3 linked regions of the Homo sapiens genome follow. The protein of the gene in region 2 interacts with the protein of the main gene of each other region in a biochemical or structural test. Each region holds a gene or a part of one and is shown on either strand. Other genes may lie near its edges.

Region 1 (3,655 bases), on a different chromosome or scaffold from region 2:
AATCTGAGATTCCAAGATTCCAGTATGATAGAAAGTCAGGGCTTCTGTTGCACTGAGATAAGAATGTGAAAAGAGGGGCAGGGAGTTGAACTATGTGGGTGAGGACGGGAACAGTGTGTATTGTGGGGAAAAGGCTGGATTCGGGGGTGGTCTGGTCAGGAGGCTGACATCTTTATCCTAGTTTGTAACTATAGTTTGCTGGGTGACCTTGGGCAAGGCTCTTTCCATCTTTGGGTCTCGGTTTCCCTGTGTGTGAAATGAGATTCAATGTGATGACCTTAAGAGTTTCCCATTCCTGAAATTCTGACTCTGGGTCTATTGCCAAAGCAAAAGCCTCTGGGCCCTTGCCCCCAAAATCTTTGGATTCTAAAATGGCTAAGGGCCTGGATAAATGGAGGGAAAACCCAGAGAAGGTATAGAGAAGCTGCAGGGGCTGGCATTCCTAGAAATTAAGCAATGTTGGCCCAGCACATTTGCTTACCACGTGAGATGTTCCCACAGATGTTCTGAGTGGTGGGGCCTGGGGTAATGAAGAGGGAGATGTGTGATTGAGTCCTCCAGAATCACACCTGGGAGGCTAGGCAGTCACTCACCTCCTGATCCCATTTCCTCAATTCTGAATAAAATAATTATAATCATGAAGATATTTTTCAACCTCTTAGACTTGTAAAATCCTGAATTAAAAATTCAAATGCTTTGAGGACCCAGGCAGGTAACAGACCATAAGACCATAAGATACAAGGGGTGTCAGACAAGAGGACATTCAGGGGCAAGTAGTGTCCGAGGAAAAGGGAAGCTCCAGCTGATCATGCCATGAGAAATCGTGGACCCAGTCTTGATTTCTCAAGAGAAATGGGAAATTGGGATTTTTCCGTGAACTCTCCAAAATTTAACTACTAATTAAAATGTTTAAAAATAGTGTCAACCAAAGGAAACATATTTATTAGCCTGTCTTCTTTGTAACCTCTGGTTTAGCTCTTCAAATTGATAAGGTCTTTTCACACAGAAGATTTTATTACTAATTTAAACATAAAATGAAGCTCTGAAGAGAGAGAGGAGGAGAAAGCATACACAGACACTGCACACCTACCGTGTCCCCACAGGCCCTGTGTGAGTGTTTCAGGCATGTGATCTCATGTTACTCTGAAACCCTCCCCCCTGGTGACTATTGATATACCCATTTATCAGATAAGGAACCTTGTCCAAAAGTCACCCACTGAGGAAGTGAGGAAAGGTGATCAGTCCCAAACCTAGCTCTATCTTTTACACCACACACTGGCTACTTTGGGACATGCCAGAACAATATCTTTGTGCACAGAGAGATTGAACTCTGAGGGAACAGCAAACAGATCCTCTGGCGGGGCACGAAGCTGGCTGTGGCCTGGACACCAACCTGCAACTTCATCCCTCCCTTCCCTTTAAACTCTCTGAGCTGTTAAACTGCCCAGGGTTCTTAAGCTAATTAAAGTCCTAACCCTGTCCCCTCTGACCCTGTAGGCAGCAGAGCAGTAAGCCATGAATCCTGCTTTTCCTAATCTTGAGCTCAGTGGGCCCCAGCTTCACCCAGATAAGCATGGTTTGCTAAGCCAATTAGTGGGAGACGATCTGACATGGGATTCCTGCCAGGCTTTCGGGATCTGGGAACCCCAAAATGGGGAGAAAATTAGGCAATTGGGATTTAGGGGCCCTCCCTCTAATGCCCTCTCTATGCATAGGCCCAGACACTGCACTCTATGTCACCTAAGAAGCCCTGCATGACAGAGAAGTTCTGGAATGAGTTAGTGACCTATTGGAAGGAAATGTCAGGCTCTGGATTTCCCCTCTGGGAAACTACATTCTTGGCATAACGGTTGAGAGGGTTGAGAGCACGGACTCTAGATTCAAGTGTCCTCAGTTTAAATCCAGACTTTACTACTTCTTATATGTGACCTTGACAAGGCAAATAATCTCTCATCCGTTGTAAACTAGGGACCAAAATTGTACCCACCCGCCTCTTAGGTTGTTTCAAGGTTTAATGAGATAATGTGTAAGGGTTCAGCAAAGGGCTCATTCCATCGTTAAATGCTCAGAAACTGCTGGCAATGATTAGTGCATTAGCTTGGGCTTTGCTCCCTGTGGAACAAAGCTTTGTTCACGGAGCACATGGCAGGACAGCAAGGGGGTCCTGAAGTCCCTTGAAGCCATAATGACATGGCAGTCATTCATTTAATCTGCAGTCATTCATTCAGCAGACATTTATTAAGCACCTGCTGTATACCAGGCACTGTTCTAAGTGCTGGGAATAGAGTGGTGAACAAGACAAAGTCCTTGCCCTCTTGGAGCTCAATAGCCTAATGAAGGAACCAATAAGAAAATAAACTATGATATATATTATATGGGATATATAATACCTGGGCCAGATCGTGATAAGTGCTATGGGGAAAAAAATGAAACAGGGCAGGGAGCTACTGGAGTGCCAGGGAGAGGTGTGGCTCTTTGAGATAGGGTGGTCAGGGTGGACCTCTCCAAGGAGGTGGCATGTGGGCAAAGGGCTGCACGAGGTGAGGACAAGCTGTGTAGAGGTCTTGGGGAGGGTTTTGCAGGCAAAGGAAAAGGGAAGGGCAAGGAGAAGGCCTGTGTGGCAGAAATAGAGTGAGGGGAGCATGTTTGGAGATGCTGGTGGACAGATTGGCAGGGGCGAGGTCATGCAGGGCCTCAGAGGCCATGGCAAGGACTAGGGCTTTTACTCTTCATGACACGGGGAGCCCAGGATAATTTGGCCAGAGAAGGAACATGATCTTGACTTGTGTTTTGCAATGTCCACTCTGGCTGCTGGGTGGGGAATAGACTGGAGGGGCCGGGCACAGTGGCTCACGCTTGTAATCCCAGCACTTTGGGAGGCCGAGGCAGGCGGATCACGAGGTCAAGAGATCGAGACCATCCTGGCCAACATGGTGAAAGCCGGTCTCTACTAAAAATACAAAAATTAGCTGGGCATGGTGGTGCGCACCTGTAATCCCAGCTACTCGGGAGGCGGAGGCAGGAGAATCGCTTGAACCTGGCAGGTGGAGGTTGCAGTGAGCCGAGAGTGAGCCACTGCACTCCAGCCTGGGTGACAGAGCAAGACTCCATCTCAAGAGAAAAAGCATAAAAAAGAGAGAGAATAGACTGGAGGGAGGCAGAGTAAGCCTGGAGATGCATGAGGAGGCTGCTACAAAGATGCAGGAGAGAGACAATGGAGACTGGATCAAACTGTAGCAACAGGGATGGGGGTCTGCTTCAGGCTGAGCTAATGCGACCTCTTTCCTTCTTTGGTCCTCAGTCTCTCCACTGGGGCCAGAGTTAATGGTTCAGCATCCACTCTCTGGAATCAGCCATATCCTGCACCTGCCACTTTCTGTGATTTGGGGCAAGTGGCATGACTTGTCTGTGCCTTGATTTTCTCATCTGCTAAATGGACACTCTAATAATAGCACCTATCGCATGGTGCTTGAGGTAGTAGAAAATTAAATAATGTTTAGTGTTCAGCACAGTGCCTGGAACATAGGAAGTTCTCAACAATGATAATTAGACATTGTTATTTGTAAAACAGGTCAGGGGTTGGATTCCATCATTTTCAAACTGTGTTTTATAGCCCTGTCTCCATCATTTTAACCCAAGTATCTCTGAATGTCTC
Region 2 (3,655 bases):
CCCACCTGCCCAGCACCTGTGGTGATTTTGTGATGTGGATCCCGTCGCAGCAGACCCCTGTGCTGTGTGAGTTGGCAGAACTAGCCATTGTGTCTCAGGCCGCCGTGCCTTTTGTATGGGTGCGTGTGGGCTTCATGCCAAGGCCGCCCTTGGGAGGAACAGTGCCTGCTGTGTGGGTGCATGTGGGCTTCATGCCAAGGCCACGCTTGGGAGGAACAGCGCCTGCTGTGTGGGTGCGTGTGGGCTTCATGCCAAGGCCACGCTTGGGAGGAACAGCGCCTGCTGTGTGGCGCAGAATAGGCAGTGTGCACAGCACGGCGGGAAGCGAGGAGGGGCCTTGTTCACCCACCCTGTCCCCATGGCTACGGGAGAGCAGGAAAGGGTGCCCCAGGGAGAGTTTCCTAGAGAGACGGTTATACCCCTACCCCCTCCCAATAAAAAAACTGAAACAAACTCCTGGATCCTTACCTCCGCATGTTACAGACACTAAATGTCCTGTAAAAGCAAAAATGACCCACAAAAGGTTCATCTTCTCTCCACAAACTGCCCCACATAAAGTCCCTGTGTCAAATCAACAGAAAAGTCCACAGTGAACCCCAAAGCTGACACAGAAGTTAAAGAAACTGTTTTTAGAAGTTATTCAGTTACTGGGGAAAAATCATCTTCCTGTTTTTGATGGTAAAATACGAATCTTGCCGTCCTGCCACCCCCATTCTATTGGTAGAAAAGAAGGTCTAAGTGCATTCTTCTAATGTTGTCTTTCTTCTTTGTTTGCATAACAAAATTCAATAAAATGAAGAAAATAAAATTTATTTTGAGGTGACTGCTAATTGATTGACATCCTATTTTCTAAATCTCACCAAAATTCTAGCATATTCTAAACTGCTGAGATGACACCAGAAAGAAAGATAAATCATTTTCAAGAAGAAGAGCAACGCTAAGGCCTGTCAGTTCCACAGACATGCTCCTTTAAGCTCTCGAAAGGCAGGATCTTGGTCATTTTCATTCCATGGCAGAATGAGGGGGTGGAGAATGGGGCCCCAGGCAGGATTGGAGGTCACACATCACCGGGTAAAGCCCTCCCTCCCCAATAACATCCATCTCAGCTTTTCGGAGCTGCTTTTCTTTATAACTCAAAGACGTGACATCTCAAAAATGACTTCAAACTTCCCTGACAGCATGAAGTCCCCTCGGCCTCTCCCTGGTCCTCTCTGCATGCCTTTCTTTTAGAAACTGCTTCTCTCTTGCAATAGGTACAGGACCCAGCTGGACCAGCCAGAGCCCAGTGGCAGCTTGGTACAGATGACAGGGAGAGGGAGGCCAAGATGCCTACATTGGTGTGACCAGCTGTGAGAAGTGAATACCTGAAGCTTGTTCTAATACCACTAATGCCAAGTGGAGAGCCAGCGAGCCAGCCTGCCGGAAGAGGACTTCAACACAGAGGAACACCCCATGCAGGGATACACAAAGAACACTGGGGGACATTGGGTACCAACATGCTGGGAGCTGCCCCCAACCTCCTAGTGACTGCAACCAAAGGCTTCATCTTTCCTTTATTCCAATTTGAATTAAGTTCCTTCCTATGCATGTGAATGACTCTTAACATTGACAGCTACAACACTAATTATTTTGATCATTTCAAATTGTGATGAGCAAAATGTTCAAGATGTTGAGGTGTATTCTCCTGCCAAAGCTTCATAGTCTTTAGGTAGTTTCATAAAGCGTCATTACACTTGGTAACCAGCATCCCTCACTCTGGTCATGAGTGGAACCCAGGGCCTGCCCAGCCCTTGTGTTAAACTTTAATTCAAGCTGGATTCGCCAATCATACCCAAAGCGTGAGACTGTACTCAAAATCTTTTATTCATTTTGACTTATCCCTGTTAGAGGAAAAAAAAAAAACCAAGTAGCTTTCTAGAAGAAACACAAGGTTCTTGCAAACTTAGCACATATTGTAATTCAATGTATGTATGTGTTTCCAAATAGCAATTACTGAGCTTTAAAGGGACTTTTGGAGAAAAAGAGCCATAATGACCATATCATTCATGCTTCAGGGTTTTGGGTTAATTTTATTTTTTTTGAGACGGAATCTCACTCTGTCGCCCAGGCTGGAGTGCAGTGGCACAACCTCCACTCACTGCAAGCTCCGCCTCCTGGGTTCACGCCATTCTCCTGCCTCAGCCTCCTGAGTAGCTGGGACTATAGGTGCCTGTGACCACACCCAGCTAATTTTTTTTTTTTTTTTTTTTTTTGGTATTTTTAGTAGAGATGGTGTTTCACCATGTTAGCCAGGATGGTCTCAACCTCCTGACCTCGTGATCCGCCCATCTCGGCCTCCCAAGTAGCTGGGACTACAGGCGCCCACCACCATGCCTGGCTAATTTTTTTTTGTATTTTTAGTGGAGACAGGGTTTCATGTGTTAGCCAGGATGGTCTCGATTTCCTGACCTCGTGATCTGCCAGCACCGGCCTCCCAAAGTGCTGGGATTACAGGCGTGAGCCACCGCGCCCGGCCAGGGTTTTGGTTTTATACATAGAAACTGAAAATTGCTTTACAAGTTCCCAAGATGTATCCAATAATAGCACAATGCACAGAAATAAGAAGCCAAACAGCTACCAGTAATAATGCACATATTCAAAACAACATCAATAGTTTTTGGTACCATAAGTTGAAGTTACACTGCATAATCTTTGAAAGTACTAGCAATGGCTGGGTATGGTGGATCACGCCTGTAATCCCAGCACTTTGGGAGGCCGAGGTAGATGGATCACCTGAAGTTAGGAGTTTGACACCAGCCTGGCCAACATGGTGAAATGCTGTCCCTACCAAAAAAAAAAAAAAATACTAAAAATTAACTGGGCATGGTGGCAGGTGCCTGTAATCACAGCTACTTGGGAGGCTGAGGCACAAGAATCACTTGAACCCGGGAGGCGGAAGTTGCAGTGAGCCGAGATTGTGCCATTGCACTCCAGCCTGGGCAACAAGAGTGAAACTCTGTCTCAAAAAAAAAGAAAATAAAAGAAATTACTAGCTAGCAGTGAAATCGGTCACACCACTAAATTCCACACTAAAACTCAATGAGTAGTACTGAAAGCCAGGAATGAAATTAAAGCTTATGAAACAATACTCAATCCATTATGTCATGATCCAGATACTGAATAAACAAGCATCCTGTGGGCATTTCACTGAACATCTTCAATTCAGCCAAAAGCTGAGTCATGATATCTCTGGTCTGGTTAATTTTCTAACCAAGTATTACCAGCAAGGCTATCTTGAATTATGAATTTTTAACTAGAGCTGATTGAAATCACATTTTGACATTTTGTTTGAACAAAATACTTGTGTTGAGTTCTAAGCTGGGGACACCCTGTATGGATCCCTCGCTGCACTCCTCACCTGTGTTCACATGTCGGTCATGGGCTGATGTGTTTCCACCTGCAGAGGAAAGGGCACCTGCTGGCTCTCTGTGCAGGAAACAGTGTGGAATGAACAGTCCAATATGTTGGGTTAGGGAGTGTCAGCCTAATACAATGACAGAGAGAGGCTCTCCCAAAGTTTATTTGGGACTATGTAGGCAATTGCAAGCTGGGACATATGTGCTATAAGAGATTATAGGGATATCCAAAGAGGCTGGGATTCAGGAAAGCTTAAAGG
Region 3 (3,213 bases), on a different chromosome or scaffold from region 2:
TGTGTGTGTGGGTGTCAGGGGATGTGGGTGTGTATGGGTGTGTGGTGGGGGTATGTGTGTGGGGGTGGGAGGGTGTGTGTGGGGTGTGGGTGTGTGTGGGGGTGTGGGTGTGTGTATGGGTGTGTGGGTGTGGGTGTGTGTGGGGGGTGGGCGTATGTGGGTGTGTGTGGGGGTGTGTGTGGGGGTGTGGGGGTGTGTGTGTGTGTGGGTGTGTGTGTATGGGTGTGTGTGGGGGTGTGTGGGGGGTGTGGGGGTGTGTGGTGTGGGTGTGTGTGGGTGTGTGTGTGTATGTGAAATTGAGAGTGCATGTTTTGCCTTTCTTCCTCCTTAGCTTACAGAATTGGGCAATTGCAATCTGTCTTCTGTCAGGACCTCACCAATGTACATAGGTCAGTCAAAGATGTTTCTAATTGATTCTTTATTGACATACCTTAGCGCTCCTCCAATTAACTGGAGAATTCCTATGATTGTTGAGGCTTGCTCTTCATAGACATCTTCTCAGCCTTGCCACAGCCCCATTGGTTCCAGTTGCATATGGCAGCCCTTCATGATATTTTACCATTCAGGCTCTCCTGATTTCACAAAGATTTAGCTTATTTTTTATTAATGAATATCTTTGATGTTCAGAGTGGTTTCTGAAAGGAAAAGGAGAGGAAATTCATTACTCCATTATATTAAAAGCAGAAGTCCTTTCTAAGTCTCCATTACTCTTTGACAATATGCATGCCAATTATGTACACCAAAATTAGACTGGCTTTAAAAATGATGAACTTGAGGCCTTGAGAGTTACTGTGATTGAATTAGGGCCATACACATCAGTAAAAATGAACTGACAGGGTCTTGAGCCTGAATTCAACACATCAGATGGTATCTTAGGAATGCAATGTCAATCAAAGCCCAGTTGCTCTCCTTTGTCCACGTGCGGGAGCTTGTATTGCTCTGTTGATTTTAGTAAAATCTAGCTCTGTTACGGTGGCTTTACTGATGAGTTAGAGTTTAAATATGAACTTAGTTTCAACCTACATTAGAGGAACTATAATGGAGCAAACTCAAGAGAAGAAGGAAAAGAGGGACAAGGTTTCCCATACTCACTGACCTGATACTCTTCTTGCCGCAAACGTGAACGCTTATGGCATTGTCTCCCTTAAGCTTCACAGTCCTTCTGAACTGCTGTTATTATCCCCTTTTGACACATGAAAATGCTAAAGTACAAGAAGCTGAGTAACTTTTTTTTTTTTTTTTTTTTTTGAGACAGTCTCTCACTCTGTCACCCAGGCTGGAGTGTAGTGTTGCAGTCTCGGCTCACTGCAATCTCTGCCTCCTGGGTTCAAGTGATTCTCCTGCCTCAGCCTCCCGAGTAGCTGGGACTACAAGCGTGCACCACCATGCCTGGCTAATTTTTGTATTTTTCGTAGAGATGGGGTTTCACCATGTTGGCCAGGCTGGTCTCAAACTCCTGACCTCAAGTGATCCACCTGCCTTGGCCTCCCAAACTGCTGAGATTACAGGTGTGAGCCACCACGCCCAGCCTGAGTAAGTTTTCAAAGCCACCAGTTCAAAAGTGTTCATACTCCATCTTCTATGATCTTTCAGTTCTACCTTTCTGCCTCCCAGGTTACCATATTCATTCAGTTGAAATTGTCTCAGCCACAGCTTTGGGATTCTGTAAAGATAAAAGATGCACCAGAGGGATTCCTAAATGCTTTGTCTTCATCCTTCGAGCTGGGCGATACCTCCACGTTCTGTGTGCTTAGGGGCCACTTCTCTGAGCAGCATTCATCATGACACCCAACACTAATGCAGCAGGTTTTCAACCTGTAGTTTGTAGCCATTAATCAGTTCCTGTGACGTAAGCTATTGTTATCTCATGTTACAGATGAGGCAGCTGGTAGAGAGAGTGGTTAGGTAATTTTTCCAGAATCAGCAGTGAATCCAGGAGAGAGCTGAGACTGGACCTGTCTATCCCAGACATAGCTTACAACATGAGGGCTTTGCTAAAAGTAGTTCAGTAATCTCAACTCCCTTCATCACCTGCACTGTAAAAAAGATGTTTCATCTCACCTGTGCTGTTACCCATAGTGTGTTATAAAACCTGGTAGCAGAAGAGAAAAAGAAAGGTCAAATCAAAGAATATATACACAGGAAGTTTGTTTTTGACTAAGTATTTCAGACCATGAAGCTAAGACCATTTGGGTTTAAAGTTGCTAATAACAACACTTTCTTTATATATATTTAAAAAAATACATCAAGAGGGTTACACAGAAGGAAGCAGCCTATTTGGGGAAGGCTATCAAGCAGTAGAAAGTGATGTGAATGTCTATTTGTTCTTTTGGCTGTTTTTAGTTTCACTACAGAATAGCCTTTTTGGAGTACATAAATCTATAACCACACAAAATATGGCTAGCTTAAAAAAGTGGGAGAGGGAGATGATATGAAATTATCCCCTGAAAAGTCTTACTTTTGAACACTTGCATTATAATGGAAATAGCCTCAGATTTCTTCTGGTGGCATTCCAGCATTATTGGACAATTTATTTTCTCCTTAAGTGACATTTTAGTACATTGTGTGTTATATGTAATGATATTTCTGGAGTAACAAGTGTGCAAGAAGTGAGAGAAAAAGAAAGTACACTTAATATGTAGGCAGGTGTCTCAGCACTTTCTTTTTTGTACGTGAATCCCATTATCTCCAGTGATAACTTTGTTGACAGCACCCACCAATATATTCAGAGCAAGGTTTTATAAAATAGATCCAGAATCGTATGACTAAGAGACCCAGGTGACACGTGTCAGCCTCAGATAGTTGCTACATTTTCTGTTTTAAAGATTCAAACAAAACTTTTCACATTCTTCTTTGGGGAAAAAAAATTACATTTGAAGTCCTTTTTCACCCAAACACGTTTTGAGATAAGAGCTCACAAGTCTTGACATTATTTCATTTTGTTATGCGCATCTGTCAAGGAACCAAGATACGATACAGCTACTAAAAACTGATGATTGTGGAACAGAGAAACTTGACAGCATTTCATTTCCTTTATGTTCTGATTATACGTTTATCAGAAAACCTGTATCTCTTCTAGTTCAGCTAGAAATTGGTAGAATTCAGGAACTCAAAGGCTTGGCAAAGAACTGTCCTATTATTTGGTATCATCTTACATTTTAGAGAAGTTGCTTGGTTGAGTCATTGTTAAAGCTTTTGCTTCTCTTTTCATTA

The links.
Region 1: the proteins of SNTG2 (region 2) and XKR7 interact in a test that uses a peptide from one of them, tested with the Homo sapiens proteins (one large-scale study listed by IntAct).
Region 3: the proteins of SNTG2 (region 2) and ABCC4 interact in a test that uses a peptide from one of them, tested with the Homo sapiens proteins (one large-scale study listed by IntAct).

Annotation. Positions count from the first base shown.
Region 1 is NC_000020.11:31,971,079-31,974,733, forward strand, and holds part of XKR7 (XK-related protein 7), read left to right. Parts: intron 1-3,655.
Region 2 is NC_000002.12:1,363,335-1,366,989, reverse strand, and holds part of SNTG2 (gamma-2-syntrophin), read right to left. Parts: intron 1-3,655. UniProt on the Homo sapiens protein: Adapter protein that binds to and probably organizes the subcellular localization of a variety of proteins. May link various receptors to the actin cytoskeleton and the dystrophin glycoprotein complex.
Region 3 is NC_000013.11:95,022,242-95,025,454, reverse strand, and holds part of ABCC4 (ATP-binding cassette sub-family C member 4), read left to right. Parts: intron 1-3,213. UniProt on the Homo sapiens protein: ATP-dependent transporter of the ATP-binding cassette (ABC) family that actively extrudes physiological compounds and xenobiotics from cells.